2 linked regions of the Homo sapiens genome follow. The gene in region 1 interacts genetically with each later gene. Each region holds a gene or a part of one and is shown on either strand. Other genes may lie near its edges.

Region 1 (3,744 bases):
CAGGTGATCCACCCACCTTGGCCTCCCAAAGTGCTGGGATTACAGGCGTGAGCCACTGCGCCTGGCCACAATCTTTATTTTAATTCCCATGATGCTTCTATGAGGCAGCAGAGCCCGGAAGTTAAAGGGGCTGTGAAGGCCTTCACAGTGCTGAGATCCAATCCAACCCTTGCTACTTAACTACCTGGGTGACCCTGGTCATTTTCTTTTCTTTTGAGACGGAGTCCGGCTCTGCCGCCCAGGCTGGAGTGCAGTGGCGCGGTCTCGGCTCACCGCAAGCTCCACCTCCCGAGTTCACGCCATTCTCCGCCTCAGCCTCCCCACTACAGGCGCCCGCCACCACGCCCGGCTAATTTTGTTTTTTTGTATTTTTAGTAGAGACGGGTTTCACCATGTTGGCCAGGATGGTCTCCATCTCCTGACCTCGTGACCCGCCCGTCTCGACCTCCCAAAGTGCTGGGATTACAGGCGTGAGCCACCGCACCCAGCCCACCCGGTCACTTTCAGGTCTCCAACCTTCGATTTTCCTCATCCCCAAAATGAGAATAACAATAACATCCACCTGTCAGGACTGGTTTGAGAATGAAAAAACCTAAAGCAGGATAAGGGCTTGTTACATTACTGGCAGAAGCCGCCGCCCCATTCTGTAGGGGAAATAGAGGTTCACAGAGGTAGGGTCACCTACCCAGGATCAAAGAACTAGAAAGCGGCAAGTGTGGGACTGGAAGGGGCCACAGGCTGGCTGCAGTGCACCAGCCCTCTTGCACTAGGCTCTGCTGCCTCCCTACGGACAGGCCCAGAGCCCAGATCCTGGAGAAACCGAGGCCCCACCCTCTTGGAACCACCAACAGGGCCCTAGACGCCCATCAGGTGCAGGAGGAAGGGGCCCAGAGGAGGGGAGGGCCAGGCTCAGGCATCGGAGGCAGAGAAGGGCCGGGACGCCGGCGTCTGCGAATGTCTACACCGGGCGCCCGGGGGCTCAGCAACCCGCGAGCACTTGTGGACGCACACCAGAGAGGGGGGATGACAGGCGCCCCGCAGGAGAGGCCCGTGAGGGTCGCAGCAAACCTGGGGGTTTCGTGGAGGGCTGTGAGGGTCCCGCGAGATCCGCGAGGTGTCTGGGTCTGGGAGGGTCGGTCGAGCCCGCAGCTCGGGCCATCCGGGCCTCTGCCAGCCCGGGATGAACTGCCCGCACCCCGGCCGCACCCTCCGGGTCGGCCCGGTTACCTTCCTCGCTGAAGGGCGCCGGGAGGCCGAGGAAGCCGCTGGGGGCCAAGGCCGCCGCCACCGCCGCAACTGCACCCTCGCCCGCTTCCCGCCCGGCTTCGGCCTGGGCTTCTGCCGTATGAGCGGCCGTCACCCGCACTGCCATCGCGCCCTCCATGTCGCAACGCGCCGCAGGAAGATGGCGGATTTACGACCATGTCGTCATAACAACGGGCCGCGCCGAGGCCAGCGTGAGGGAACGGCAAGAGGAGGGCGGGGCAGAACCGGAGCGGATTGACGGACAGGCGGGGAGCCGGGCCTGGATAGCGGTGTGGCCTTAAAGGGCAGAGGCGGGGCCGGGCGCGCTGAGAGCGAAGATGGGGCGGGACTGTGGGGAGGGCGTGGTTACGGTGGAGCAGATTGCCAGCCAGGGGGCGGGGCGGCAGAAGGACCTATGTTCGAGGCTGCACTCGGATTTGAGAGCCAGAGAACGCGAGGGGCGAGCGGACTGGCGGCTGCTAGGCAGCCGCGCCCCAGCGCTTCCGTACCTAAGGACAGGTCGCCCCGCCCGCGGCTGCTGCTGGGAAGCCGCCACAGCTCCAACCAGGGGTGTGGTGCCTGCTGCCCACTGACCGCCTAGGGTGTTAGAGCCTCCCAAGATGGTTACCCGGGTCACGGGAAAAGAACACGGGTCGGGGATGGCTCATGGGTAGCTCTGCGAAGCTGTTTTATTCTTTTATATACTTTTAATTTTTTTTTCTTTCTTTTTTGAGACGGAGTCTCTTTCTATCGCCCAGGCTGGAGTGCAGTGGCGCGATCTCGGCTCACTGCAAGCTCTGCCTCCCGGGTTCACGCCATTCTCCTGCCTCAGCCTCCTGAGTAGCTGGGACTACAGGTGTCCGCCACCACGCCAGGCTAATTTTTTGTATTTTTAGTAGAGACGGGGTTTCACCGTGATAGCCAGGATGGTCTCGATCTCCTGACCTCGTGATCCGCCCGCCTCGGCCTCCCAAAGTGCTGGGATTACAGGCGTGAGCCACCGTGCCCAGCCACTTTTTAAATTTTTTAAAATTTATTTGCATTATGTATTTTAAATAGAGACAGGGTCTTGCTGTTTAGACTAGGCTGGTCTCAAACTCCTAGCCTCAAACCATTTTCCCATTTCGGCCTCCCAAAGTGCTAGGATGACAGGCGTGAGCCACGACTCCCAGCCACGTTGAATTTTTGGTTTTGGAGATGGGGGTTGTTTTTGGTTTTTGTTTGTTTGGGGTGTTTGTTTTTGAGACAGAGTCTCACTCTATCACCTAGGCTGGAGTGCAATGGCGCGATCTCACTGCAGCCTCCGCCTCCTGGGTTCAAATGATTGTCCTGCCTCAGCCTCCCGAGTAGCTGGGACTACAGGAGTGCACCACCATGGCCAGCTAATTTTTGTATTTTTAGTAGAGACAGGGTTTCACCATGTTGGCCTAGATGGTCTCAAGCTCTTGACCTCACGATCTGCCCGCCTCGGCCTCCCAAAGTGCTGGGATTACAAGCATGAGCCACCGCGCCCGGCCTGTTTTTGTTTTTTGAGATGGAGTCTCGCTCTGTCACCTAGGCTAGAATGCAACGGCACGATCTTGGTTCACTGCAATCTCCGCCTCCCAGGTTCAAGCGATTCTCCTGCCTCAGCCTCCTGAGTAGCTGGGACTACAGGCAACTGCCACCACACCCGGCTAATTTTTTTATATTTTTAGGAGAGACGGAGTTTCACCATGTTGGCCATGCTGGTTTTGAACTCCTGACCTCAGGTGATCCGTCCCCCTTGGCCTCCCAAAGTGCTGGGATGACAGGCATGAGCCACCGAGCCTGGCCAGATTTTTTTTTGAAACAGCACCTTGCTCTGTCGCCCAGGCTGGAGTGCAGTGCCGTGATCTCAGCTCACTGCAGCCTCTACCTCAACCACCCAAGTAGCTGGGACTACAGGTGCCCATCACTAGCTAATTTTTGTATATTTTGTAGAGATGGGTTTTTGCCATGTTGCCTAGGCTGCTATAGAACTCCTGAGTTCAAGCGATCTGCCTGCCTCAGCCCTCTTACATACTTTTAAAAAATTGTGGGCCAGGCACAGTGGCTCACTCCCGTAATCCCAGCACTTTGGGAGGCTGAGGTGGGTGGATCACCTGACATCAGGAGTTCAAGACCAAGCAGGCCAACATGGCAAAATTACGTCTTTACTAAAAATACAAAAATTATCTGGGTGTGGTGGTGCACGCGTGTAATCCTAGCTACTCAGGAGGCTGAGGCAGGAGAATCGTTTGAACCTGGGAGGCAGAGGTTTCAGTGAGCCGAGATCGTGCCACTGTACTCCGGCCTGGGCAACAGAGCAAGATTCCGTCTCAAAAAAAACTGTGGTAAGTGCACATAAAATTTACTATTAGCGACATTCACAGTGTTGTGCAACTATCACAGCTATGTGGGTACAGAACCTTTCCGGCACCCTGAAAGGAAACCTGTGCCTTTGAAGCAGTGATTCCCCATCCGCCCCTCCCTGCCAGC
Region 2 (3,744 bases), on another chromosome or scaffold:
GTTGGCATACTGTGGCCCCCTCAGAGCAGCAAAAGCTGAGCAAGTTGGACGGGCAAGTGTGGATCGCCCTGTACAACCTGCTGCTAAGCCCTGAGGCTCAGGCGCGCTACTGCCTCACAAGTTTTGCCAAGGGACGGCTACTCAAGGTCAGACTCCCTCCGCACCAGCCCCCACAGCCCCAGTACCGCCCTCCCCATCCTACCCCGACTGCGTCCCTGCTGTTTATCTTTGCCCACCCACCTCAACCCCAGTGCTCTTTTCAGTCCTTGGGCCTCAGGTGACACACCAGCTAGTGGGACATGGGCCCCCACAGGCATTCTCAGCCCAACCCAGCCCCTTCCTTTTCCTTGGCCCCCTGGCCAGCACCTGCATCACACTGGCCTCCACTGGACACCCTTGCAGCTTCGGGCCTTCCTCACAGACACACTGCTGGACCAGCTGCCCAACCTGGCCCACTTGCAGAGTTTCCTGGCCCATCTGACCCTAACTGAAACCCAGCCTCCTAAGAAGGACCTGGTGTTGGAACAGGTAGGCACTGGAAAGTTAGCTGCTCAGGACCACTGTCCCACTTTACCAGCACCTTCCTGCCACTCTCCACTTCTCTCTCCTAGATCCCAGAAATCTGGGAGCGGCTGGAGCGAGAAAACAGAGGCAAGTGGCAGGCAATTGCCAAGCACCAGCTCCAGCATGTGTTCAGCCCCTCAGAGCAGGACCTGCGGCTGCAGGCGCGAAGGTAAGGCCTGTGGAAATGGCAGGGAGGGTGGAGGGGATGCAGGAGGCATGGATGTGGGTGGGGTGCCCCCACCTTCCAGGGCCAGTCAGACCTTCCTGACTTTCCCCCAGGTGGGCTGAGACCTACAGGCTGGATGTGCTAGAGGCAGTGGCTCCAGAGCGGCCCCGCTGTGCTTACTGCAGTGCAGAGGCTTCTAAGCGCTGCTCACGATGCCAGAATGAGTGGTATTGCTGCAGGTGAGGGTATCCTAGAACCTTGGACCTCTAAGCCCTACTCCCACATCCCCCACATGCATTGCCATCCTCAATACCCACCTGCCTGCAGGGAGTGCCAAGTCAAGCACTGGGAAAAGCATGGAAAGACTTGTGTCCTGGCAGCCCAGGGTGACAGAGCCAAATGAGGGCTGCAGTTGCTGAGGGCCGACCACCCATGCCAAGGGAATCCACCCAGAATGCACCCCTGAACCTCAAGATCACGGTCCAGCCTCTGCCGGAGCCCCAGTCTCCGCAGTGGAGAGCAGAGCGGGCGGTAAAGCTGCTGACCGATCTCCCTCCTCCTCACCCCAAGTGAAGGCTCGAGACTTCCTGCCCCACCCAGTGGGTAGGCCAAGTGTGTTGCTTCAGCAAACCGGACCAGGAGGGCCAGGGCCGGATGTGGGGACCCTCTTCCTCTAGCACAGTAAAGCTGGCCTCCAGAAACACGGGTATCTCCGCGTGGTGCTTTGCGGTCGCCGTCGTTGTGGCCGTCCGGGGTGGGGTGTGAGGAGGGGACGAAGGAGGGAAGGAAGGGCAAGGCGGGGGGGGCTCTGCGAGAGCGCGCCCAGCCCCGCCTTCGGGCCCCACAGTCCCTGCACCCAGGTTTCCATTGCGCGGCTCTCCTCAGCTCCTTCCCGCCGCCCAGTCTGGATCCTGGGGGAGGCGCTGAAGTCGGGGCCCGCCCTGTGGCCCCGCCCGGCCCGCGCTTGCTAGCGCCCAAAGCCAGCGAAGCACGGGCCCAACCGGGCCATGTCGGGGGAGCCTGAGCTCATTGAGCTGCGGGAGCTGGCACCCGCTGGGCGCGCTGGGAAGGGCCGCACCCGGCTGGAGCGTGCCAACGCGCTGCGCATCGCGCGGGGCACCGCGTGCAACCCCACACGGCAGCTGGTCCCTGGCCGTGGCCACCGCTTCCAGCCCGCGGGGCCCGCCACGCACACGTGGTGCGACCTCTGTGGCGACTTCATCTGGGGCGTCGTGCGCAAAGGCCTGCAGTGCGCGCGTGAGTAGTGGCCCCGCGCGCCTACGAGAGCGGAAGGGGCAGCCAAGGGGCAGCGCAGTCGCCGCGGGTCAAGTCGCGGCAGAGGGGGTCGGCGGGGACAGCTCCCGAGGACTAGGTCCGTTACTTTCGCCCCATCGCTGAAGAGTGCGCGAAAATGGTTTATCCCTTGTCGCACTCCACTCGTATCTGGGCCACAGATGAGCAGAGGTGGCTGCTTATATGTAAAAATACGCTGATTTTAAGTTTCTTATCTTTAAAATGCCTTGGCCCTTCTTGAGAAAGGGTTTGTGCCTACTGTCCTCGGAGTCCATCTTCCCAGGCTTGCCTCTTCTCAAACACTCATGACCCCCTCCAGAACCTTTAGGGTGAAGGGAAATTACCACCTATGGGAGGGAGCCTGGAAAAATTTAGAACCTTTGGTGGGCCCCCTGCAAGCAGGAGTTTTGTTGAGTCTTTATTTAGCAAACACCCTTTTCTGACCCAGTGAATCAGATGCTAAAATATGCACGCAGCCACACACCCAGCAGTCCTTCTGCACCCCTGGGAATCGCCAGCAAGCAAAGGTTGCTCTCCCCTGGGTAGACACCAGCTGGAATCACCAGGGGTGCTTTTACAGTCCTCCCCGCTAGCCTGGATCCCACCGCAGACCTGTTGAATCAACTGCTGGGAGTGGACCCTAGGCATCAGTAAATTTTAAAAACTCCCCAAATTATTGTAACATGGAGTCTGGGTTGAGCATCACTGCTCTGGCCTATTTAGGAACTTGTGGATGGATAGTGTCCCAGGTCTGTGTGTGCATGGAGACCCTCTCATCCGGTACAAGAGGACATCACAAATTCAGCTGGGGGGAGCACAAAGTTGTGACAGAATGCAAAGAATGAACAAGGGGCCGAGCGCGGTGGCTCATGCCTGTAATCCCAGCACTTCGGAAGGCGGAGGCGGGTGGATCACCTGAGGTCAGGAGTTCAAGACCAGCCTGGCCAACATGGTGAAACCTCATGTCTACTAAAAAATAAAAAAAAATGAGCCAGGCGTAGTGGCGGGTGCCTGTAATCCCAGCTACTCGGGAGGCTGAGGTGGGAGAATTGCTTGAACACAGGAGGCGGAGGTTGCAGTGAGCCGAGATCGTGCCACTGCCCTCCAGCCTTGGCGACAGAGTGAGACTCTGTCTCAAAAAAAAAAAAAAAAAAAAAAAGAACAAGGCTGGGACATTGCAGCGTTCTCAAAGAGAAATAAAGTAGCCATGGAGATAAGAAGCAGGATGATTTGGGCATGTTTATCAGAGGTAGAGACAAGGGAGAAATCAAAGATAAGTTTGGGCTTTTGTCTCCAGTAACTGGGAGCCTAGTGGCCATTTTTGCTGCAAAGAGGAAGCTGGGCAAGTGTAGCAGTGAGGCTGAAGAAAAGGGAATTAAATTTTGGCCATGTTCACTTGAAACGTCTTTTAGACATCCTAGTGAAGGTACTGGCACGGAGGATCTAGTCTGAGGGTTTAGGTCAGTGTTTCAGCCGTGGATCTGGGGCAGATGAATGTAGACAGACCAGGCCAGTGATCAGGACTGAGCCCAGACTTCATCGTGAGATATGGAAGTTGAGTCAGAATCTGCAAAGGAGCTGAGCAGGAGCTGCAGGGGGTAGGAGGAAAACTGGGAGAGTGTAGCCCCTGGGAGTCAAAGGGAGCAAGCTTCAAATGATGCTGAGGGGGTGAGAATGGAGAATGGAACACTGGATTCCATTTGGTAGTACACAGATCGCTG

Evidence for each region. Genes that interact genetically often act in the same process or in processes that back each other up.
Region 2: of E4F1 (region 1) and RASSF1, changing one enhances a phenotype caused by changing the other (phenotypic enhancement), as found in Homo sapiens cells (one study listed by BioGRID).

What each region holds. Positions count from the first base shown.
Region 1 is NC_000016.10:2,221,254-2,224,997, reverse strand, and holds the start of E4F1 (transcription factor E4F1), read right to left. Parts: upstream 1,408-3,744; 5' UTR 1,385-1,407; coding exon 1,228-1,384; coding exon of another isoform or gene 1,069-1,227; intron 1-1,068. UniProt on the Homo sapiens protein: May function as a transcriptional repressor. May also function as a ubiquitin ligase mediating ubiquitination of chromatin-associated TP53. Functions in cell survival and proliferation through control of the cell cycle.
Region 2 is NC_000003.12:50,338,799-50,342,542, reverse strand, and holds the start of RASSF1 (ras association domain-containing protein 1), read left to right. Parts: upstream 1-1,706; 5' UTR 1,707-1,737; coding exon 1,738-1,987; intron 1,988-3,336; exon of another isoform or gene 3,337-3,449; intron 3,450-3,744. Other genes in the region: ZMYND10 (zinc finger MYND domain-containing protein 10), read left to right, coding at 1-146, 403-528, 612-733, 844-969, 1,058-1,133. UniProt on the Homo sapiens protein: Potential tumor suppressor. Required for death receptor-dependent apoptosis. Mediates activation of STK3/MST2 and STK4/MST1 during Fas-induced apoptosis by preventing their dephosphorylation.